Homo sapiens: one gene and its partners. The protein of the gene in region 2 interacts with the protein of the main gene of each other region in a biochemical or structural test. Each region holds a gene or a part of one and is shown on either strand. Other genes may lie near its edges.

Evidence for each region.
Region 1: the proteins of GRB10 (region 2) and RET form a complex in vitro, tested with the Homo sapiens proteins (2 studies listed by BioGRID).
Region 3: the proteins of GRB10 (region 2) and INSR form a complex in vitro, tested with the Homo sapiens proteins (5 studies listed by BioGRID and IntAct).

The regions. Positions count from the first base shown.
Region 1 is NC_000010.11:43,071,475-43,080,381, reverse strand, and holds the start of RET (proto-oncogene tyrosine-protein kinase receptor Ret isoform a precursor), read right to left. Parts: upstream 3,314-8,907; 5' UTR 3,124-3,313; coding exon 3,051-3,123; intron 1-3,050. UniProt on the Homo sapiens protein: Receptor tyrosine-protein kinase involved in numerous cellular mechanisms including cell proliferation, neuronal navigation, cell migration, and cell differentiation in response to glia cell line-derived growth family factors (GDNF, NRTN, ARTN, PSPN and GDF15).
Region 2 is NC_000007.14:50,772,339-50,780,405, forward strand, and holds part of GRB10 (growth factor receptor-bound protein 10), read right to left. Parts: intron 2,823-8,067; exon of another isoform or gene 1-2,822.
Region 3 is NC_000019.10:7,284,102-7,292,168, reverse strand, and holds part of INSR (insulin receptor isoform Long preproprotein), read left to right. Parts: intron 1-8,067. UniProt on the Homo sapiens protein: Receptor tyrosine kinase which mediates the pleiotropic actions of insulin.

The DNA.
Region 1 (8,907 bases), on a different chromosome or scaffold from region 2:
GGGCAGTGCACTGTGAGCCCCCATGGGGTGCTACTGCTGGTATTAGCCTTATCCAGTTAAGACGAGGGGACCTAGAGGGTCTTCGGCCAGGCTGCAGAGGGGGAAGGTCTCAGGGGAGATGGCAGCTTCCGGGCCTTCCCTTCCCCTTGGCACCCCAGGTTCCATTTTAACAGATATCATAATTTTTAATTGGTTTTCTCCTCCACTGGCTAAAAGGCTATTAGCTCCCCGCTAGGTGATCGCATCCCATTTTCTTCACACCACCAAGGAAACAGTGATTTCCTCAGCCTGTCCCTAAAGTGATTCTGCAGAAGAAAGGCAATTTAGTGAATCAGCTCAATGCACTTCCCCATTTGCTCTCTGCTTGCAGGCCCCCAGCAGGCACAGCCCACCAGTGAGGGCTGCAGGCAGCTTCTGGAGGCCAGACAGGGTTAGTGAGCTGGAGTGGAGGAGGAAGCAAGCCAGGCCCAGGTGAACCTGGTGAAGCCTCTGGCCAGAGAAAGGGGAGAAGGAAAAGGATGAAGCAGGGGGAGCTGTACCCCTGGCCTGAGCTGCCCGCGCTGATACCTGGTGCTTCAGGCAGGGGTGGGCTGCCTAGGCCCTCTGCAGAGGGTGGTCTGGCAGCTTGGATCCGGGCCCTGCCAAGTCACAGTGCCCAGCTCTTCCATGCTGGGAACAGAAGGCCCCGGGGCCCAGGGGCAGAGAGGGAATGTCCTTCCTTGCTGCAAAACAGGACCCAAGAAGTCAGGCCAGGAAGACAAGAGACAAGAGGCTTGCTGAGGAGCTGTGGGAGGTTGAGGTGCAGGGTCAGCCTGGGACCTGGGGGGAACCCCAGAAGCTGAGACTCAGTTTCCTCATCCAAGCAACGGGGACAGCTGTATCTGTGTTGAGCAATGAAATGCCAGAAACCTTTAAGAGCAACTTTTAAATGAATGTAACTTTTAGATGGAGGTTCTCTCACTCTGGTTCCAGCATACCTGGGGCTGACAGGCTATGCCCTGCAGGTATGAGGAGTGTGTGTCCCTATATACACACGTGGCGTCCCTGTGTGTATGAGTGATGAGAGGGGCTGGGGTCCCTGTGTGGACGTGGGTGAGGCAGGGTGTGAAGGAACCACGCTGTGCATGTCCACAGCCTTGGCAGCAAGTGCTGTGAGAAGGGGCAGGAGTGTGTCTTGGTGATCCAGTGTGAGTGTGCATGTGTGAGCTGTGGAAGAACCCTCATCCTCTAGAGACCCAGTCTGTGCCTGTCATCAGGCCCAGCCACTAAAGTGCAGCGTCCGCAAGAGGGCGCTTGAGGCCGAGCTGTCCCCTTGGGGTGGTTGGGGAGCACCGAGGGGCTCACTGGGGCGGTCCTTGGCAGCTCCAAGAGTGCGGCTCGAACCTCCGGAGCTGTGGCTCCTGGGAAAGAGCTCTGCAGCCTCTTCAAAGGCCCCAGCTGTCTACTCCAGGGAGTGGGGCTGCCTCTTCACTCCCAGTGCCTCCAACTGTGGTGTCCGGGTTATCCCAGGGGCTAGGGGCTCACCATCTCTGGATTCGGGAAGCTGTCTGTGGGCCAGGGGTCTGGGCACGGAAAGCTACCTGCATGCCTGCTGAGTGCCACAAGCCGGCCCCCAGAGCCTGGCCCCCACAGCCTCACTGGCCACCCCAACTGAACGCAAGGCTGTGGAAGGGTGTGGGGAAGTCCTCTGCCCAGCACACCAGCAGCAGTTCACACCTGGCCCCCTGCCCACAACCTCAAAGCCAAAGCCACAGCCCAGAATCCCAAGACAGCGTCAGAGCGCCTTGTTTGCTTCTGCCCCGTGTCTTCCCCCTGCAGCACTGGGACCCCAAAGTCCTAACACTCAGAAAAGATAGAAAGGCAAGGGCTTCTCCCCTGTCCCTCGCTAGGTGGACTGGGGACCCGCTCTGGCCTCAGCATATGCTGAGCTGAGGCGCAGGTCACACAAATGAAGTCTCAGGCAGGCCTGGAAACTCAGTTTGTGCAGGGCCTGGGGCCAGAGACAGGGTGACTGACCATGGCTTCTTCTGTTCCCAAAGGCTGTGGGGAGAGAAAGCCCTTTGTAAGGAGTGAGGGAGGATGGCCAGGGCTCCTTCCCTCTTAGAGGGAAACTTGGTTCATACACAAGCGCTTGGAGGGGATCAAGTCAGGGCCAGTTTGAGGGACACTTAAACGCGTGCCAAGGGGTCAAAGATTCCACAGCCTTGCGGCTCACTCTGCCAGAGTTTGGGTGGGGTCGATGACCATCTTTGCAAGGCCACACCTAATGCTGGGATCCTAAGGCACCTGAGGTTTCACCAGGCCCAGCACCAACGCTGGCTGGCGGCGCAAACCCCTGCCCCACCCCAAGCCCTGGGCCTCCTATGGCCGCATCTTCAGCATCTCTGCCAGGCAGCGCCACACGACTCCAGGGCTGCCGGGTGGGACGCCTATCACGGCGGCCCCTCGGGGGGAGCCACCCCAGAAACCACGGTTTTTAGGTGTTTAAAGACAGGGCGGCAAAAACGCACGAGGGAAAAGCAATCTTTTCAAAAGAGCCTCCGAATCCCTCGGCTGGCCAGGACGGCAGAGCTGGGGGAGGAACGCACGGACGCTGAGCGGGAAAAGGAAACCAGGACGGAGCCGTCTCCTGCCGAAACAGAACTCTCCGCACGAATCGCGGGCTTTCGGGGCTCCCTGACCCGTCCGCCAGGTCGGCCCCGAAACGGCTGTCCCGTTTGCTCCAGGACGCGGCTTTGGCGCAGGGCGCGGCCAGATTGAGACCTGCGGCTATGGCTAGGGTTCTGAGCACCGACCCCCGCGGCCCGGCCCGCGCTCCGCTCCCGCCCGAGACCCGCCCAGCCCCGGCCCGAGGCGCCCGGCCCGAGGCGTCCTGCCCTTCGCCCGCCGCCCGCCGCAGCCACTGCGCTCCCAGCCGAGGCCGGGTGGCCGGCGACCGCACAGCCCGCTGCCCACGGCAAACAGAAAGGCGCTTCTGAACGCGCCCGCTCCGCTGCTCGGCGCCAACTTCGCCCTGGCCCCTGCGGGAGCCGGCGGCCGGCAGAACTCACCTTTGCCTAGCAGCGGCAGCAGCAGCAGCAACAGCAGACGCAGCCCCGCGGCACCGGACGTCGCCTTCGCCATCGCCCGTGCGCGCTGGGGCCACGGCTGGAGGGACTGCGGCTAGGGCCGGCGGGTCTGGATGGCGGGTGCGGCGCTCAGTCTGGCCGCCCCATCCCCGCCCGGGGCGCGGCGGACGCGACGGACACTGGGGGCGCGACGCACGTTCCGGGGCACTCAGCGCTGCTGCGCGCCCTGCTTCGGTCGCGGGACTGAAGCGAGGTAAGCGCCGGCTGCGCCGGAGGAGCGGGTAGGGGCGGGGCGGGGCGGGGGCGGTCCAGGGGTGGGCCAGGCGGGGCCGGAGGCGGGTGGGGTGCGGGAAGGGGCGGGGCTCCAGTGCTTGCTCTGGCTGCGCGGGGTGCGGCCGGGGCGCGGCGCGTGTAGGAGCTCAGTGCGGGACGCGCGGCTTGGGCCGGGTGGGGCTTGGGGAGGAGCGGGGTGCGGGAGCGGGGTGCGGCCGAAAAGGGCCCGGCAGGAGCCGGGTGCGGACCCCGAGGTGCGCGGCGGGGATGGAACCCAGGAGCCCGGGTCCGCGCACCTACGCAGAGCCGCTCTTCCTACCCGGTGCGCGCCCGCTTGCAGTCCCTGCCTTTTGCCCTTTCCGCTGCACAGAGAGGGCAGGGATGCTACGCGGGATGCAGGTCTGGCCGACTGGCTCGGGGTGCGACCCCGCGGACTCAGAGAAGGGCGCCCCGCCTCCAGGCTCTCCGCGGAGCGCTTGCTGCGCCATTTCTCAGAGGCGAGAGGCGCAGTGGGAGCGCGGCCTCTGCTGGGGCCGGAGGCAGGAGGCGGGGAAGAGCTGAGCAGGGGAAGAGAGGCAGAATAGCCTTTTTCAGCATCCTGGGGTAGTAGAGAGGGTAGGGTCCTGGAAGGGCAGTTTGTGATTCCCCCCTCCAGCACTGGTCCAACCCTTGGAAACCGGAAACTGGCTCCGGCGTCCTTTCAGAGACCTGGTGCTGGTGGCCCTTGCATCCCTTACACAGGAGAACTCTCAGGAGATGGGCTGGCAGAGTCGGAGAGCGAGTAGCGAGGAGGAGGAAAGAATCCAATTTTCCCCCAAAGAAATGATGGAAATGATGCGCATAAACACATTTACCCCTAATAGGGAGCAGCAACTGGACCTGAGAAGGGGTTCTGGGTGAGGTTGGATGTGGGCTCAGTGGGGAAGTCCTCTGTTCTCGCCCCATCCCCGGCTGCTTTTTGAGGTCTGGCCTGCACTTAGGCGCAGAGGGATGGAAGAAGGGAAGCCCATGGGCCCTTGAGGAGGAAAAGCCAGGGAACCTGGGCCCAGGGCACCCTTGAGCCAGCCGCTCCCTTGCTTGCTGTGTGCAGAACCCCGCCCTCTTGCCTGGCTGAGCTCAGGGCTGAATAAGTGATCTGCACATCACTGCAGATATGAAGTCAAAGTGAAGTCACCCTCACAGGCAGGAGGGGGAGCTGCCAAGACAGAGGCTGGCTTGCACTCAGCCAACCGTGATGTCCAGACCTGGCTTGCTGAGGGGCAGGTGGCCGGGGCACAGGCCTGCCAGCCCAGGAGAGACACTGTGGGCCACTGGACTCCGGCTGCCTGCCACACCCTTCCAGTTTATGGAGCTAGAGTTGGCCACAAGGGGCTCCCTTGGGTTCAGACAGGTTCCATCTCTGGTGCCAGTGGCTACCTAGGCTACACACTCAGGCCTGTGCCCAGGGAAGGGACCTGATAGGTAGGGAGGGGCTGGGGGCATCTTTTGGCTACAGACAAGCTCCTGTGATTGCCTCCTAGGTGAATGAAGAGAGAAGTGGGTAGGCTTAAATAGCCCCACCCCTGCACCTCCCGGGGACCACCCTGGCCAGCCCTTGGCTGACATTGATGTCTGGCTGGGCTCTGTGTGGCCATCTTAAGGGGCCATCTGGGGCTGTGCTCCTGCCTAGCCTACCTTAGGCCTTTCCACGCTCTCGCTCCACCCTCACCCTTGGGGGTCCTGAGTGAACACCTGACACTATGAGAGGGTGTCATTTACTCCTTGGAAAAAGGTCTGGGGGGCCCTCACATGGGTGTACCCTGTACACATGCATACATGCATACACCTGTGTTCCCATACGTGGACACACACGCACACAGATGCATACCTCCCTGCTACGTGCACGCCCAGGGATCTGACCAAAGGGTCGCTCAGCAGAGGACAGTTGTGAGGCCCAGAGCCTGCTGGCCTCAGGGACTGCGGGGAAAGGAGATTCAGCCCTGCCTGGGTGTAGGCTCAGTATCCAGAACATCAGGCAGCAGGAAGGAGCTCCTTGCCCAGCAGAGGGGAAGCGAGGCCACCCCCTGAGGTCTCACAAGGGGAGGTGGGGGCCAGGTGAAGTGCAAAGCAGACGTGCCGGTCTTTGGCTGCCCAGGAGTCCTGGCCCTGGCTTCTCTCAGTCCATGGGGTGGGGAGGGCCTGCAGGGGGCTCTGCCTCTCTTTCTTGACTCCCCTTAGTCATCTCTCTGAGCCTCAGTTTCCCCAGCTATAAACATCTCCCTTTCAGAAGAAGGGGTGAAACTAGAAAGAGGGGTGCATGTGAGGGTAGAGCCCAGTGCCCGACAAACAGGAAGCCCTTAATAAGTTGTAGCCATTGGGCCTTCCTGGGCCTGGGCTCGGGCACCCTGGCCACACTGCCCTGCTGAGGGTCGCGGGCTCTCTGGGAGCTGGAGGAGGGCACATCACAGTGTGGTCAGTGCTTCCTGTCCCTGCCCGCAGGTCCCCTTGGAGAATCTTCAGGGCAGCTTTTATGAAGACACACATCCTGGGTCCCCCACTCCCTAAAAATCCATGTTAAAAAAAAAGTTCAGGGGCCAGGCTAAGGGCTCACACCTGTAATCCCAGTACTTTGGGAGGCCAAGGCAAGAAGATCACTTGAGGCCAGGAGTTCGAGACCAGCCTGGGCAGCACAGTGAGACGCTATCTCTAAGAAAAAAAAAAAAATTCCCCAAGAGGTTCTGGTGCAGGCATCTGCTTGGAGTGATTAGACCTGAGTTTGAATTTTGCCATTCATAGTTGTGTGACATTGCATACATTACTCCTCAGCTTCAGTTTTGTCATCTCTCAAATGGGGACTGAAACAGTGTCCTTCCCTGGTGACTGTGAGGAGATGGTATTTTCAAGGCTCTGCCCCAGTGCAGGGTAAGATGCTCAGTGGGCAGGCGGCTCACACCATCTTCCTGTAGCATGTGAGAACTTGGAGGTCATTCATTGCTTCTGAGCAGGTGAAGATTACCTGGAGCACCTCAGGTCTGACCCCAAAGCACCAAAACGCAGCACAGGGAAGGGAGGGAGGAGGGAAACCCATCATGGACAGAGATCTGGGCCATGCCTGTGCAGGTTTGCCTGGCGGGAGGCGGGCGGGATGCTCTGTGTCCTCTGACCCAGGTGACATGGGGGTCTCTGCCTGCACTGAGAAGCATGGTTGGAGTGAGGCTGAGTGCAGTGACAGGAAACTCTGGCTCTGGGGGTGCCTCGTGACTTGCAGGTAGGGGGAAACACATTCAAGAGCGCAGCTCGGTCCTGGTGATACTGGAAGGCTGGGTGGCATTCCTGGAACTGCTGACCGAGGCCTCTCAGAGTGGGCGTGGGCAGGGGTCCAGGTCCCTCCCATGGGCAGTGTGACATGGTGGTTGGAAGCACAGACTCTGAGGCTGGCTGTGTGCACTGTTAGCAAAGTGGTCGGTGCCTCAGTTTCCCATCTGTCTGCCACTGCCCTCTGCTCCCCCATCGGGCTATTGAGGTGAGGGGCAGGTCTACTGCTCCCCACGGTTTGCCTCCCTGGCCTTGCTGTTGGTGCCCTCCAGGGCAGCTGCGAGGAGGAAGCCAGTGACCACCAGCTAGCTCTCAGGGCACTCAGAGGGGCTGCTCAGCCAGCCCACCCTATGCCAAATATGCTGCTTCCATGAGCATGCTCACAGAACACCTGGCCTGGGCCTGCAGGGTGTGGCTGTGCAGGACAGGCTTTACCTAACTGTGCAGGTCCTGCCTGCCTGTGGGCCTCAGGTGCCCTCAGGGGTGTTTGCAGAAGAGCCCTCAACCTGGCCTGGGAGAAGACCCCTTTTGCATCCTCCCTGGGGCCTGATTAGGAGCCGGGTGCCCGAACAAAAGCAACAGGGGCCTACATATCCATCAGAGACCCTGGGGGGTTCAGAGAAAGCCCACCTCCTCCCACCAGCCTGCCCACCTACTCCCACTAACCTATCATTATCACTTTGCCCACTTCAGTTTTCCATGTCCCCACACTTTGTTCTCTTGTGAATTTCCTTCCCTCGCCCTCCTTTCTTCTTTCCCCTCTGCCCGTCTTCTCCTCCCCTTCCCTTGGAGGAATCTCCATCCTTTTCGCTCAGCACCAGAGCCAGGCTAGCCACACCACTCAGCAGCTTCTGTGGTCCTCTCTGGGCCTCGGTGTCATCCTCTGTGACATGAGAGCAATAACATGGGCACTGCCTTGAGGGTAAAGCCCAATGATGCATCAGTGGGCTCAGCAGACAGTGGCAGTGTTTCCTGCCCCTCTGCCAGGGTTTTCTCTCCTACAGGGGGCTGTCTAGGTGTGGCCTGGGGCAGTAGCATGGTGGGAAGGCTGCAGGGGGCTCTGAGTGTGTCTGCGCTCTGTCTCTTGTCCCCATGTCCTTGGCGGGTTACCCAGAGTCTCCGTGCCTCAGTGGGAAGGCAGAGCTCCTTCTCCCCAAGTTCCCCGGGGATGCAGACAGTCAGTCTGCACAGAGTCCTTAGCCCAGGGACGCTGGCCATCAGCACGAGCTGCCGCTGTCATCAGCCTCTGTCCTGTCAGCTGTAGGAGCTGAGGCCATGAGGCCCAAGCAGTCACTGGATGGTGCTAGGGTGGCATAGAAAGCCAGGGGGCCCTGGACCCAAACAGTCCGGGCTTCCCACCTGCACAGGTGACAGCACGCACCTGTGTGCTGTGTGGGGCTGGTGGTCAACGAGACTGGCTTGCTAGAGCACACACCTGTCTTCTGCATCCTGGCTTGGCCACAGGCTTTGAGCCCTCCCCATGCAACCAGAAGCCTTCTCAGTGCTGGAGGGACCTGGGTCCCCAGAGTCCTATTTGCCGCAGAGGACCACTTATCTGACCTTGAATTACACATTCGGGAGTGGTGGGTTGATTAATGTCTGCGGCCACCCAGGCTCCTGGGGGATTGGCTCACATAAGGCAGCCCCAGCCCGAGGGGCTCAGAGGCCGGCTGGTCTGTGGACAGGACCTCAGGCCTGCCGGTGCCTTGCTTGGTGCATCCTCTGGAGAAGGCATCCTGGCTCCAAGCAACGTGGAGAGTGGAAGCTCGAGTCAGCTGTCCAGCAGATACAGGCTGAATGCTTTTTAGACAAAACATCTCCCAAGGCAGTTTCATAATCTGCCTTGTAATGCAGATTTAGACAACTTTTTACGAATGCGCTTTTTAAAATAGGCCTTAATGGATCTTTGCAGTAGTTACAGTCCATTGTGTAAATGCAAGCAGAAGGCTTTTTGAAAACATGTATTATTGATCAGAAAGGCAGCAGCAATTAGAAGCCAGTGTGTCGTATTGTTCAATACACACTTCCTATACAGCCCTGCCGTGCCCACTCATAACTTTCTGACAAATTATCTCGTCACTAGGAAGCCCTTTCTTTTCCTTTTTGCTTCTGTGAGTGAAAGAGCGCCCCCCGATTCGTTATTAGCTGGAGGTAAGGTCAATGAAAAATTAAGCTCACCATTGCCATTGCAAAACCTATTTACAACTTCTCCTTGGGCTTCTCAACTACAACCAGGTCTGAGCTGGAGGGGCTACAGAAGGGCCACAGAGGA
Region 2 (8,067 bases):
GGTCTTCTAGACCACATTCTCGATGCAAGAGTCCCAGGACAGTCAAAGAATACAGAATCATTCCCGAAACATTCCACCAAGGCAAGGGAATTAAATATCTGTTAATGTCTGTTATAAATTCCACAGCAAACATCATACTCAATGGCGAAATAGTGAAAGCTTTTCCCCAAAGAGTGGAAACAAGACAGAATTCTTGCTTTTGTCACTTCTACTTAACACAGTATTGGAAGCTCTAGCCAGAGCAATTAAGTAAGAAAAAGAAATGAAAGCCATCCAAATTGGAAAGGAAGAAATAAAATTATCTGTTAAACTCTTAGAAGAAAACATATGCAAAAATCTTTATATGGACATTGGATTTGACAATGACTACTCAGATATGACACCAACAGCACAGGCAACAAAAGAATAAAATAAATGAACTTCATCAAAAATTAAAAATTTTTGTGCGTCATAGGACACTACGAAGACAGTGAAAAGACAGCCTGCAGAAAAGGACAAAACAGTTGCGTATCACATAACTGATAAGAGTATTAATATCTAGAATATATAAATTCCTACAACTGAGTAACAAAAAGCAAATCAAAACCACAATGAGCAATCATCTGATGCCTTGTATTAGTCCGTTTTCATGCTGCTGATAAAGACATATCAGAGAACTGGGCAATTTACAAAAGAAAGAAGTTTAATGGACTCATATTTCCACGTGGCTGAGGAGGCCTCAAAATCATGACAGAAGGTGAAAGGCATGTCTCACATGGTGGCAGACAAGAGAAGAGAACTTGTGCAGAGAAACTCCCCTTTATAAAACCATCAGATCTCATGAGACTTATTCACTATCACTAGAATAGCATGGGAAAGACCCAACCCCGTGATTCAATTACCTCCCACCAGGTCCCTCCCATAGCATGTGGAAATTATGGGAGCTACAATTCAAGATGAGATTTGGGACACAGCCAAACGATGTAACACCTATTAGGACAGCTATAAGGAAAGAAAGGGGAAGGGGAAGGGGAAGAAAGGCAAGGGAAGAGGAAGCGGAATGGGAAGGGAAGGGGAAGGGAAGGGGAAGGGGAAGGGGACGGGGAAGGGAAGGGGAAGGGGAGAAAGGGGAAGGGAGGGGAGGGGAAGGCAGGGGAGGGGAAGGCAGGGGAGGGGAGGGGAGGGGAGGGGAGAGGAGAGGAGAGGAGAGGACAGGAAACGAAAAATGCCAAGTGTTGGCAAGAATGTGGAGAAACTGAAACCCTTGTGCATTATTATTGGGAATGTAAAATGGTGCAGCTGCTCTAGAAAACAGTTTGGCAGTTCCTCAAAAAGCTAAGCATAGAATTACCATATAATGAAGCAATTATAATCTAGACATATATACAAAAACATGGAAAGCAAGTACTCAAAGATAGTTATACACCAATGTTTACAGAAGCATTATTCACAATACCCAAAAGGTAGAAACATAAATGTCCATCAACAGTTGAATAAACAAAAAGTAGTATATACATACAAGGGAATTTATTTGTTTGTTTATTTATTTATTTATTTTGAGACGAAGTCTCGCTCTATCACCCAGGCTGGAGTGCAGTGGCGTGATCTCAGCTCACTGCAAGCTCCGCCTCCCGGGTTCATGCCATTCTCCTGCCTCAACCTCCCAAGCAGCTGGGACTACACATACAAGGGAATATTATTCAGCCATAAAAAGGAATGAAGTACTAATGCATGCTACAACATAGATTAACCATGAAAACATTATGCTAAGTGAAAGAAGACACTCACAAAAACCACAGACGATTCTATTCACATGAAATGTCCTGGACAGGGAAATCTATGCAGACAGAAAGTAGAGTTCCTTAGGGTTGGGAAAGCAGGGGGAGCAATGGGATGGCAGGGAGTGGGGGTATGATAGCTAAAGGGTGCAGGGTCTCTTTTTGTTCTAAAATTGACTATGGTGGCGGTTGCACATAGCTGTGAATATATTAATTGAACACTATATACAATGTATGTGTGTGTGTTTATTCATTTCTGCAGTTATAACAAAATACTTGAGACTGGATAACTTATAAAGAACAAAATCTATTTCTCACAGTTCTAGAAGCTGGGAAGTTCAAGATCAAGATGCCAGCACTTGGTGTCTGGTGAGGGCCTTCTTGCTGTGCCCTCACATGGCAGAATGCAGAAGTGCAAAAAGGGGATCCTAGCTAGTTCTCTCCAGCCCTTTGATGGGGGCAAGAATCCATTCATGGGACTGGAGCCCTCATGACCTTATCACTTCCCAAAAGCCATACCTCTTAATAGAGTTGCGTTGGGGAAGTGATAAGGCCATAAGGAGACACAAACATTCAAACCATGGCATTCCACCCCAAGTCCCCCAAATTTATGTCTTTCTCACATACAAAATACATTCATTCCATCCCAATAGCCCCAATGTCTTATCTCAGGCCAGGATCAATTCAAAAGTCTGAAGTCTAAAATTTCATCTAAATCAGACATGTGAGACTCAAAGATGTGTTTCAACCTGAGGCAAAGTACTTCAGACTTCAGCAGTGGCTCACTCCTGTAATCTCAGCACTGTCGGAGGTTGAGGCGGCCGGACTTCTTGAGCCCAGGAGGTCGAGACCAGCCTGGGCAACATGGCAAAACCCCATCTCTAATACCAAAAACAAAACAAAACAAAAAAAAAAACTAGCTGGGCGTGATGGCACACGCCTGTAGTCCCAGCTACTCAGCAGGCTGAAGTGGGAAGATAGCTTGAGCCCAGGAGGCAGAGGTTGCAGTGAGCCGAGATCACACCACTGTACTCCAGCCTGAATGACACAGTGAGATCCTGTCTCCAAAAAAAAAAAACAAAAAAAAACAGTGGAACAGACAAAGAACAGACATTCCCATTACAAAAGGGAGAAATAGGAAAGAAAAAAGAGGTAACATTTCCCAACCAAATCCAAAACCAAACAGGACAAACATTAAATCAATGGTAAGGCTGGAGAATAAATCTTTGGTTCCATGTCCTGCCTTCCAGACACAATGGGGCAGGAGTTGGGTTCCCAAGGACCTGGGCAGCCCTGCAGCCAACTGCTGGGCACAGCCCTCATAGCAGCTCTCACAGGTTGCAGTTGGGTACCTGCAGCTCTCCCAGGCTGGCACTACACACGGGTAACTCTACAGTTACAGGCTCTCGAGGGCAGCCCCACCCCCACAGCTCCATTAGGCATTGTCCTTGTGGGAGCTCGCTAGTGTGCCCCCAGCCTCAAGACTCTGCTGGACATTGCCCTAGTGGGGGCTCTTTTTGGCACTCCTGCCCCATGGCTCTATTAGGCATTATCCTAGCAGGGAGTCTCTGCAGCAGACCTATCCTGCAGCAATTCTCTGTCTGAGCCCAAGACTCTCTGAGGCATCCTTTCAAATCTAGGTGAAGGTAGCCATGCATCCACAGCTCTTGCACTCTGCATACTTGCAGACTTAGCGCCATGTGGATGCCACCTAGGCTTATGCCCTGTGCCTTCCACAGCAATGGAACTAGCTGCACTTGAGCCCCCTTGAGCTACAGCTGGGATATCCAAGGAGGGCTGCACTGTAATGCAGAGAGCAGAGAAGTGATGCCAGGCAGTGAATGCTGAGGTCCTGCAGACGCCCAAGGCCTCTCCTTTGACATAAGTTCTGTTCCCTGGGCCTTGGTACTCTGGGCCTCTGATGGGAGGGGCAGCACTGATAATCTCTGAAATGCCTTCAGGATCATTCTTCCATTATCTTGATGAATAGCATCTGGCTTCCTTCTATCCATACTAATCTCCTTATCAAAAGGTCACTTGGCCACACCCTTAGTGTTTTCTCCCAAACATGTTTTTACAACCTGGGCAAGCTAAAAATTTTCCATATCCTTAAATTCTGCTTCCTTTTCTTTTTTGGAAACAGGGTCTCATTCTGTCACGCAGGCTAGAGCGCAGCAGCAGAATCATGGCTCACTGTAGCCTTGACCTCCCAGACTCAAGTGATCTTCCCACTTCAGTCCCCTTGAGTAGCTGGGGCTAAGTGCACACCACCACACTCCGCTAATTTTTTTTTTTTTTTACTTTTAGTAGAGATAAGGTCTCATTATATTGCCCAGGCTGGTCTTGAACTCCTGAGCTTAAGCAATCCTCTCACCTTGGCCTCTCAAAGTGCTGGGATTACAGGCATGAGCCATAGTGCCCAGCCTCTGCTTCCCTTTGGATTATAAATTCCATTTTCAATTCATTTCTCTCACATTTTACTGTAAGCAATTAAGAGAAGTCATGCAGCATACTGAATACTATGCTCACGGATTTCTTCCACCAAATATCCTAGGTTGTCACTCTTAAATTCTGCCTTCCCCAAAGCCCTAGAGTATGGGCACAATTCAGCCAAGTTCTTTGCGCCTTTGTAGCAAGGACTGTCTTTCCTCCAGTTTCCAATAAGATATTCATTTCCATATACGACCACAGCAGAACGGGCTTTACTGTCTATAATACTACCAGCATTCTGATCACAGCCACTTAGAAGTTTCTAAGAAGACACTGGTTATCTCTACGGCTCTCCTCTTCTTCTGGGCCCTCACCAGAATCATTCTTAATGCTCTGTTCACAGAAATTTAGGCTTTTTCTAGCAAACACTTCCAAACTGTTCCATCCTCTACCCATTACCCAATTCCACTTTTCTTTTAAGTATTTGCTATAACAACACCCACTCTCAGTATCAATTTCTGTCTGTGCTGCTATAACAAAATCCACAGGTTAGGTAATTTATAAATAATAGAAATTTACTTCTCATGGTTCTGGAAGAGAGGAAGTCCAAGATCAAGGCACTGGGGTTCAGTGTCTGGTGAGGGCCTCTCTCTGCTTCCAAGATGGTGCCTTGTTGCCACACCCTCCAGAGGGGAACAAATGCTGTATCCTCATATGGTGGAAGAGCAGAAGAGAGCAAACCCATTCCCCCTCAGGCCCTTTTAAAAGGGCCCTAATCCCATCTATGTCCACTCTTATGACTTAAACACCTCCTAAAGGCCCCACCTCTTAATAACATCACGTTGGCCATTAGGTTTCAACACATGAATTTTGGGTGATACATTCAGACCACAGCAATCTGTATACACACACACACACACACACACACACACACCATTGCACATATCTGTAAATATACTAATTATAATTGAATTATATACTTCAAATTTAAATGAGTAAATTGTATGGTATGTGAATTATACCTCAATACAGCTTTTTTTTTTAAGAGAGGACTGTATGAAAAAACTAGCCCATAAAGATACATGCACACCTATGTTTATTGCAGCACTACTTACAAAAGCAAAGACATGGAACCAACCCAAATGCCCATTAATGATAGACTGGATAAAGAAAATGTGGTACATATACACCGTGGAATACTATGCAGCCACAAAAAGGAATGAGATCATGTCCTTTGCAGGGACATGGATGAAGCTGGAAGCCATCATCCTCAACAAACTAACACAGGAACAGAAAACCAAACACTGCATGTTCTCACTCATAAGTGGGAGCTAAACAATGAGAGCACATGGACACAGGGAGGGGAATAACACACACCAGGGCCTGTCAGGGAGGGGAGAGGGACTGAGGGGAGGGAAAACATCAGGACAAATAGTTAATGCTTGGGGGGCTTAAAATCTAGATGACAGGTTGATAGATGTAGCAAACCACCATGGTACACGTATACCTATGTAGCAAACCTGCACGTTCTACACATGTATCCCGGAACTAAAGAAAGAAAAAACTAGCCTAATGAAATAATCAGCACAAGAGGGGTTCTAACTCCACCCCGACCCCCCAAAATTTGGAACCACCATAGTCTAGCCATCTTCCTCTTAAAGTGTCATAATACATTGTGGCACACAAAATTTTCTGAAATGTTGTGCCATAAAGAAACCAACTTTATCTAATCCAAAGTTTCCTCACTTATTTGGCAATAAATTATTAGCTCCTGTAGTATCTAAAACCTTCAGGAAGCATTAAGTTGCCCAACATCACCACCAGCCTAGGAAGACTGTTAATGAAAGATGACAAAGGAATGGGTCCAAAGTCCCATGGAGCCCATCAATGCATTTACTGATCAACTAGGGCAGGCACAAATACAAACATTCAAAAATGTCTTTGCTATCCAAGGAAGAACTTTGGTGGTAGAATTTTTCAAAAGGTGGCATTAAGTAGAGGTGATCCACACAGTGGAGCCTTATACACAGAACAGACTCACAGTGCAAGCAAGACAAAAGCTGCTTTAATACCACCTACCCTGACAGGGAAATAATGGGACAACCCAACCCTACCTCCAAGGGTAGGGTCGGGCTAACGCTGACAGAAACAGGCAAGGGCCCCAGCCAGAAGCCCCACTGGGACATCTTTATTGCTTCTTTCTATGGCTTGGAGGCCTTCCAGGTTCCAGGCTGTGATGCTGAGACATGAAGGCACTGAGCAAGGACCTTGGAAGAAGTGGGGTGTTAGCATGCACAAGCTCAAAGCAGATACAATTCCTACATTCTTAAAAGAAGGCAGGTGGGGCTTCCAAATCCGCTCAAGATTCAAAAGGTTTCAAACCTTTCTAAAAGTGTTCTATCATCATAAACAAAAGAGAAACCACTAAATAAAATCCACAGGAATCCAAACAAATGTCAAAGCAGGACACTGTACAAATATTTGCCCCTGGAATAAAGTATGGACACATTTAAGAATGTCATTTACAACAATGTAGGGCTAATCACTAGAAAATTCTTGGTACAAAAATTCTTAGATTAAGTAATAGCATTATTAATAATAGTTCTTACCAGGTAAAGTGTCCTCTTCAGAGAATTTCTAGAGAAAAAGACACTAAAGTGAACACAGGGGGAAATGCATTAAGACCTTACTGCACAAAGTGTGGGCCACTGACCAACTGCAAGCATAACACCTGGGAGCTGGTCAGAAACCCAAAACCTCAGGTCCCAACCAAGACCAACTAAATTAGAAGCTGCATTTTATTATCAGCCCCAGGAGATTCCCATGCATATTAAAGTTTAAGTTGTGGTATTTTCAGACATTGTTAATATTTAACTTGTATCAGAACTGAAACGTGCCAGCTCCCTTTAAGAAAATAAATAAGCAAAATATATTAACATCACTATTTTATTGTTCAGTCAACACAGGCCATCCCTCTACTCACCCTCCCTTCCTACACAGATTTCATTATTTTCCATCTAAGTAAGGCAGGAACAGATGACGGAGACAGACTGGCTCCTCAAACACCTGTTGAGTGAATGACAGGCGGGGTCCCTTGTCAAAAGCCACCCAGAGCACTCCTTGCCATTCTCATCCCACTTGAGTGCTGAACAACTGCTCAGAATTACACAGCCATTGTTGGCAACGGCACATCACCAGTCTCAAGCCACCAGGACTACCTTGACAACACTCAGAAGCTGGCTCCCAGACACTGCACAGGAAAGGAAAAAAATTATTTGTAGGTGACTTACAGGTACCATTTACACATTTAGAATTTTCTTCCCTCACTAATATGAGATTTGAGCCTGAGGCATCTAGAGTTCAGCCCAGACTCTTCCAGCTGCCTTCAGGCAAGTCTCCACAGACCAGAAATGCCCCTGGAGAGATAGTCCTGGACCCCCTGACCGAGGAGGCAGAGAAAAAAAGGGAAGAAAGAAGCAAACGGGGCCAATAAATGCCTACTGGCCCCCCAATCCTAGTCACAGCTCAGCATTTTCTGGCCCCTTTAATTTAACCTCTGCCGGCCGTGAGAGGAACAAAGCCCATTCCACATGAAAACAGAAGAAATGTGTCTCCTGAACAAATCAGAATAAACCGTCATGGAAAGGGTTCCAGGGTTTGGGATGGGTTAGGACTTTGTGGATCATGCCCAGCCAGTGAATTCTGTGAAATATGAGAAAATATGGTCCATCACACCAGTTCTGCACGTGATGCATGGCCATGCCCACTACCAGATGTGCCAAGTTATTTAATCTGACAGAAGCAAAAGGCCCACATAAAGGCCTCTTTTGACATGTGCTCCCAGACCTCCTAGGGTCCACAGGACTCATACTGCCTCAAG
Region 3 (8,067 bases), on a different chromosome or scaffold from region 2:
CTGTGAGCTCAGATGGCACCACTGCACTCCAGCCTGGCCAAAGAGCGAGACTTTGTCTCAAAAAAATAAAAAAAAAGGCGGGGCGTGGTGGCTCACGCTTGTAATCCCAGCACTTTGGGAGGCCGAGGCGGGTGGATCACCAGTTCAGGAGATCACGACCATCCTGGCTAACACGGTAAAACCCTGTCTCTACTGAAAAATAGAAAAAATTAGCCGGGCGTGGTGGCGGGCGCCTGTAGTCCCAGCTATTCCGGAGGCTGAGGCAGGAGAATGGCGTAAACCCGGGAGGCGGAGCTTGCAGTGAGCCAAGATCGTGCCACTGGGCGACAGAGCGAGACTCTGTCTCAAAAATAAATAAATAAATAAAAAGAAAATCCAAGATGAGTGGTTTCGAACTATGCCAGATTCTATGTGTGCGTGTGTGTGGTTCCCTGTTCTTCTGTTCCTTGTAGCTTTGGTAATTAATTGTGGATCTGTGCCTGGGCTTTCAGGGTCAGTAAATGGATTTACCATTTCTTTGCACATTTATGGCTTCCATATGGGCAGGGGTTTATGGTTTGTTGTTGTTCACCGTTGCATTTCTAGAGCCCAGAACGATGCCTGGCACATAGTAGGTGTTCAGTAAATATTTGTTCTGCAGTGGGGCACAAGTGGTGGAGTTCCTGGGTGTACTGGGCTCCTTTATCATCTTAAGGAGTTCCTTATTCTCTGCATAATACCTTCCTAAGAATTAGAAGAGCAAGCTCTCAGCAGGTGCTGTTCTATGCGCTTTGCATATATAATCTCAGTTAATCCTCACGGCAAAACCCCACGAGGTGCGGTTTAATCTTCCCTTTTCACAAGTGAGAAAACTTCGCTTGAGGCCAGCAGGCAGCAGGGCTGGGATTGCAATCTAGCTAGTGTGGCTGCAGAGCAATGGTTTCTTAACAAATCTTTGTTCTTTTGAGTCCGAGCCTCCGTACCCCCCACGATTGGGGTGATGGTGAACAAAATCCTGTCAAATAAATGGGCTGTGATGCCTCTTGAAGGCTTGGGGAGGGGCAAAGAACTTTTCAGATCATTAATCTCTAATGTCAACCAATATGGCTTTTTTTTTTTTGAGACGGAGTCTTGCTCTGTCACCCAGGCTGGAGTGCAGTGGCACGATCTCAGCTCACTGCAACCTCCACCTCCCAGGTTCAAGGGATTCTCCTGCCTCAGCCTCCCCAGTAGCTGGGATTACAGGCGTGTTCCACAACACCGGCTTATTTTTTGTATTTTTAGTAGAGACAGGGCTTTGCTGTGTTAGCCAGGATGGTCTCGACCTCCTGATCTTGTGATCCACCCGCCTCGGCCTCCCAAAGTGTTGGGATTACAGGAGTGAGCCACCGTACCTGGCCTTTTTTTTTTTCTTTTTTTTTTTTGAGACAGGGTGTCACTCTGTCACCCGGGCTGGAGTGCAGTGACACGATCTTTGCGACCTCCGCCTTTCAGGTTCAAGTGCATCTCCTGCCTCAGCCTCCTGAGTAGCTGGGATTACAGTCGTGTATCACCACCCTTGGCTAATTTTTGTATTTTTAGTAGAGATGGGATTTCGCCATATTGGTTAGGCTGGTCTCAAACTTCTGACCTCAAGTGATCTGCCTGCCTCGGCCTTCCAAAGACCTGGGATTATAGGTGTGAGCCATCACTCCGGGCCCAATATGGCATTTTGATTGGGATGAAGGGTGGAGGAAAATCAGTGTGATTTTTGTATCTATCTCTCTAGCTATCTATTATTTTTTGAGATGAGGTCTTGCTCTGTTGCTTAGGCTGGAGTGCAGTTGGGCAATGATGGCTCACTGCAGCCTCGACCTCCTGGACGCAAGCCATCCTCCTATTTTAGCCTCCGTAGTAGCTGGGACCACAGGCACACGCCACCCTGCCTGGCTAATTTTTACTTTAATGTGTAGAGCTGAAGTCTTGCTATTTTGTCCAGGCTGGTCTCAAACTCCTGGCCTCAAGCGATCTGCCTGCCTTGGCCTCCCGAAGTGCTGGGATCACAGGCATGAGCCACGGTGTCTGGCCTCTGCAGTTATTCTTATTCTTTGCTTCTCTCCTGGAGACCTGCTTCTTGCCCTTCCCCATTCATGCATAGAGACCACAGGGTGTGGGCTGAGTCCCCAGGGCTCCCCACCTCACCCCACTCTACCCTTGACTTCCATTCCTCTTTGGTTTAAGCAGAACTCTCAATCTTGGCACTGCTGACATTTGGGGCTGGATCATTCCTGGTGGTGGGGGCTGTCCTGTATGTAGAGTGTTGAGCTGGAACCATGGTCTCCACCCATGTGGTCCTGGGAGGATCCCCTTCCCCCCAGGCATGACAACCACTAATGTCTCCAGACATTGCCAGGCACGTCTCTGCAGGAGTTAACCTTTTCCCTGTCTGAGACATTTACCCATCTGGGCTCTTGCTCTTTCTCCTCTCTTTGTTCAATAATCCTCGGCCGGGTGCAGTGGCTCACGCCTGTAATCCCAACACCTTGGGAGGCTGAGGTGGGCGGATCCCCTGAGGTCAGGAGTTTGAGACCACCCTGGCCAACATGGTGAAACCCCATCTCTACTAAAAATGCAAAAATTAGCCAGGTGTGGTGGCGGGTCCTTGTAATCCTAGCTACTTGGGAGGCTGAGGCAGGAGAATCGCTTGAACCTGGGAGGCAGAGCTTGCAGTGAGCCGAGATCACACCATTGCATTCTAGCCTGGGCAACAGAGAGAGACTCTGTCTCAAAAAAAAAAAAAAAAAAGAAAAGAAAAAAGAATCTTCATTTACCCACGTGCTTTTTCAGCCTCTAAACACCCAGTACCCCCCAATCCCCATTACCTACCACTGACCTCCAGCCTCCACCCTGTCCAGCTTCCCCAGGCCAGTCCTCCCTGCCCTTTCCATCTCACTCTTTTCTCACTGTTCTGCCCCCAGCATCTGGCTTGCATCTCCGCTGCTTTACCGATGGCTCTCGAAGTTAATCTCTCATCTCCCAGTTGCGTCTCCTGCAGCCTCACCTCACTTGACCCCTCTGGGTTTGACATTGCCAGTCCCCCCTCCTGGAAGGCTGTGTCTCCCGTCTCACCTGTGCCTAAGTTCTTCTGTTTTACTGTTCTCTTCTCCTTCTACCTGGGCTAAGATGTTGGCTCTCTCTTCCCAGAGGGTCAGTGTTTCCTTTAATCTTCTCTCAGCTCACTTTTTTTTTTTTTTTTTTTTCACTTCTTCACCCGGGCTGGTGTGCAATGGCATGATCTTGGCTCACTACAACCTCCGTCTCCTGGGTTCAAGCAATGGTCCTGCCTCAGCCTCTCCAGTAGCTGGAATTACAGGCATGTGCCACCCCGCCTGGCTAGTTTTTGTACTTTTAGTAGAGACAGAGTTTCACCCCATTGGCCAGGCTGGTCCCAAACTCCTGACCTCAAGAGATCCACCTACCTCAGCCTCCCAGAGTGCTGGGATTACGGGCATGAGCCACCGTGTCCGGCCCTTTTTTTTTTTTTTTTTTTTTCCAATTTTTATTTCTTTTTAGAGACAGGATTTTGCTCTGTCACCCAGGCTGGAGTGCAGAGGTTTAGTCCTAGCTTACTGCAGCCTCCAAGTCATGGCCTGGAGCAGTCCTCCCACCTAGGTTCCCCAAGTAGCTGGAATCACAGGCAGGTGCCACCATGCCCAGCTAATTGAAAAATTTGTTTGTAGAGACAGAGTCTCACTATGTTGCCCAGGCTGGTCTTGATTTCCTGGCCTCAAGTGAGCCTCCTGCCTTGGCCTTCTGAGAAACTAGGATCACAGGCAGGCACCACCATGACTAGCTAATTTTTAAAATTTATTTGTAGAGACAGAGTCTAGCTATGTTGCCCATGCTGGTCTTGAATTCCTGGCCTCAAGCAACCTGCTTGCCTCCGCCTCCTGGGTACCTGGGCTCACAGACAGTCACCACCATGCCTGGCTAATTAAAACTTTTTTTTTTTTTTTGTAGAAACAGGGTCTTGCTATGTTGCCTAGGCTGGTCTTGAACTCCTAGTTCAAGCAGTCTTCCCTCCTGGGCCTCCCAAGTGCTGGGATTATAGGCATGAGGAACCATTGCGCCCAGCTAAGAAATTTACATAGATTCCGACTTCTTCATCTGAACAGGGGTCAGCAAACTATGGCCCTCAGGCCAAATCCCACGGTTTTTGTAAATGCAGTTTTATTGGCATGCAACCACACTCATTTGTCTACTCATCATCTATGACTGCGCAAAAATGCCCCGACACGGCAGGTTGAGTAGTTAAAACAGGAATTCCATGGCCAAAATATTTACACTTTGGCCCTTTACAGAACAGCGTTTGCTGACCTCTGATCTGGAACAGACGCCTTGAGGTTTCATTCATGATAGCATGCCTAATAGCTTGTGCAGTCCCTGGTACAACTCGAATGAAGTGAGTGAAATGAAACGCTATGTCTTTCTCTTTACACCGCAAGAGATGTTAAAGAAACGTGTGTCATTTGCTGCACTGAATATACGGATTCCAAGGATGAGAAAAATCACCGTGATGTTGCCTACTTAGCCATGTGTATTTATTTAAACAGCTATATTGGCATTGAATGAGGATTTCATGCTCTCAACCCTGTATCTAGAACCCAAAATATAACTGGTGTATATAATGAGATTTTTTTTTTTTCTCTCAGGCCTCTCTTGTGTTAATTTCTGTTAAGAATACTTCTGGGCCAGGTGTGGTGGCTCACGCCTGTAATCCCAAGCACTTTGGGAGGCCGAGGTGGGTGGATCACTTGAGGTCAGGAGTTCGAGACCAGCCTGACCAACATGGTGAAACCCCATCTTTACTGAAAAAATACAAAATTAGCCAGGCGTGGTGGCGCATGCCTGTAATCCCAGCTAGTTGGGAGGCTGAGGCAGGAGAATCGCTTGAACCTGGGAGGTGGAGGTTGCAGTGAGCCGAGATTGCGCCACTGCACTCTAGCCTGGGTGACAGAGCGAAACTCCATCTCAAAAAAAAAAAAAAAAAAGAATATTTTTGGCCAGGTGCAGTGGCTCATGCCTGCAATCCCAGCACTCTGGGAGGCTGAGGTGGGAGGATTACATGTGTCCAGGAGTTTCAGATCAGCCTGGACAACACAGCAAGACCCTGTCTCCACTAACAATAAAACAAAAATTAGCTGGGCATGGTGGCATGTGTCTGTAGTCCCAGCTACTTGGGAGGCTGAGATGGGAGGACCTCTTGAGGCTGGAAGGGCAAGGCTGCAGTGAGCTGTGATTGTACCACTGCACTCCAGCCTGGGCAACAGTGAGATCCTCTCTCTGTCTCAAACAAAAAAAGAATACTTCTTGGGGTGGCCTGGTTGATATTTTGCAGCTGCATGGTATTTACAGTTTTTAATTAAATAGTGACGGGTAATGCATTCTCATTGCAAAAAGAAAAATTACAAAAGTGTAGAAAGGAAAAAAAAAACACAGAAGTCCTTCTGCAAAATCTTGTGGTGGGGTGCAGTGGCTCACACCTGTAATCCCTGGACTTTTTAGGAAGCTGAGGTGGGAGGAACACTTGAAGCCAGCAGTTTGAGACCAGCCTGGGCAACATAATGAGACATTATCTCTAGAAAAAGTTTAAAAATTAGCTGAGCATGGTGGTGTGTACCGGTAGTCCCAGCTACTCAGGAGGCTGAGGTGGGAGGATCGCTTGAGCCCAGAAGGTTGAGGCTACAGTAAGCCATATTCATGCCACTGCACTCCAACCTGGGTGATAGAGCCCGACCCTGTCTCAAAAAGAAAAGAAATAATAAAAAAAAATCTTGTCCCCCTGTCCCCAAAAGCATTCCATTCATGTCCAGGGAGGTAACTGTGCCATTGGTTTATGTATCTTTTTGATGTTTAGTAATTTTTTAGGCTAGGTGTCATGGGGCCACTCCTGTAATCCCAGCACTTTGGGAGGCCGAAGCAGGTGGATCTCTTGAGCCCAGGAGTTCAAGACCAGCCTGGGTAACATAGCAAGACCCCGTCTCTACAAAACCCTACAAAAAAATTATCCAGATACAGTGGTGAGCACCTGTGGTCCCAGCTACTAGGGAGGCTGAGGTGGGAGGATCACCTGAGCCTGGGAAGTCGAGGCGCCAGTGAGCTGTGATTGCACCACTGCATCCAGCCTGGGTGACATAGTGAGACTGTGTAACAACAACAACAACAAAATATTTTAAACATTATCATACAGTAAAATTGGCTTTTTAAAGGTGTACCATTTTATGATTTTTAAGCCATGTGTAGAGTTGTATGGCTATTGCCACAATTAGGATAGAGAACAGTCTCGTTGTTGTCCAAACTCCCTCAATTCACCCCTTTATCACTAAACCACCTCCACCCCTAACCACAGATCTGTTCTCCATCCCTATAGTTTTCTCTAGACTTTAAAAGATTTTATCTTATAATTGGATTAATATTCCTAAAGTTGAAATTTTAAATTTGAGTCTGGTTGATCCTCATCATTCCCAGATCCCATATTTTCTTTTTAAAATTTAAAATTTAAATTTTTATTTTGAGAGGCAGGTTCTTGCTCTGATACCCAGGCTGGAGTGCAGTGGTGTGGTCCTAATTCCCTGCAGCCTCCAACTCTTGAGCATCAACGATCCTCCTGCCTCAGCCTCCTGAGTAGCTGGGACTACAGGCACACACCACCATGCTCAGCTAGTTTTTATTGTTATTTATTTATTTATTTATTTTTGAGACGGAGTCTCACTAACTCTGTTGCCCAGGCCAGACTGCAGTGGTGTGATCTGGGTTCACTGCAACCTCTGCTTCCTGGGCTCAAGCAACTCTCCTGCCTCAGCCTTTCTAGTAGCTGGGGTTACAGGCACGCCACCATGCCCGGCTAGTTTTTTTTATTTTTAGTAGAGATGGGGTTTTACCATGTTGGTCAGGCTGGTCTCAAACTCCTGGCTTCAAGTGATCCGCCCACTTCAGCCTCCCAAAGTGCTGGGATTACAGGCGCGAGCCACTGTGCCCGGCCTAATTTTTAACTTTTCAGCAGGGATAAGGGCTCGCTATGTTGCCCAGGCTGGTCTCGAACTCCTGGCCTCAAGTGATCCTCCCATCTTGACTTCCTAAAGTACTGGGATTACAGGCATGAGCCACTGCACCTGGCCCCAGACCCTGTATTTTTGAATTCACCTACTCACTCAAATGTATTTGTAACCCTCAAACCAGCATGCTCAGTGCCTTTCTGGTCATTTTAGGACACTCATAAGTACGAGTCTCAAATGTGAGGTCAAGTAAGAGGGCATTCCACCTTCTTGCTTCAGCCCTTATGCGTCAGATTCATACAATCTGCACACTGAGGATTAAAACTAGTCCTTTTTGAGCAGGCGCAGTGGCTCATGCCCAGCGCTTTGGGAGTCCGAGGCGAGTGGATCACGAGGTCAGGAGATCGAGACCATCCTGGCTAACATGGTGAAACCCTGTCTCTACTAAAAATACAAAAAATTAGCCAGGTGTGGTGGCGGGCGCCTGTAGTCCGAGCTACTCCGGAGGCTGAGGCAGGAGAATCACTTGGACCCAGGAGGTGGAGGTTGCAGTGAGCCGAGATTGTGCCTCTGCACTCCAGCCTGGGTGACAGGGTGAGACTCAAAACAAAAAACAACAACAAAAAAACCTGAGTCCTTTTTGTGGTTATTTGGTGCCACATTTTTAGCATTTTTGTGCTTTCAGTTGGTGATGGGGCTGTTTCAAATGCCCCCCAGGGTGCTGAAGCCCTGCTCTCTACTCTTCCTTGGCTAAGGAGGGCTGTCACCACCCTTGTGGAGAAAAGGCAGCGTGGCGGGGCACGGTGGCTCACATCTGCAATCCCAGCACTTTGGGAGGTTGAGGCAGGTGGATCACTTGAGGCCAGAGTTTGAGACCAGCCTGGGCAACATGGTGAAACCCCATCTCTACTAAAAATACAAAAATTAGCTGGGCGTGATGGCGCACACCTGTAATCTCAGCTACCTGGGAGGCTAAGGCACAAGAATTGCTCGAGCCTAGGAGGTGAAGGTTGCAGTGAGCCAAGGCGGTGCCACTGCACTCCAGCCTGGGCAA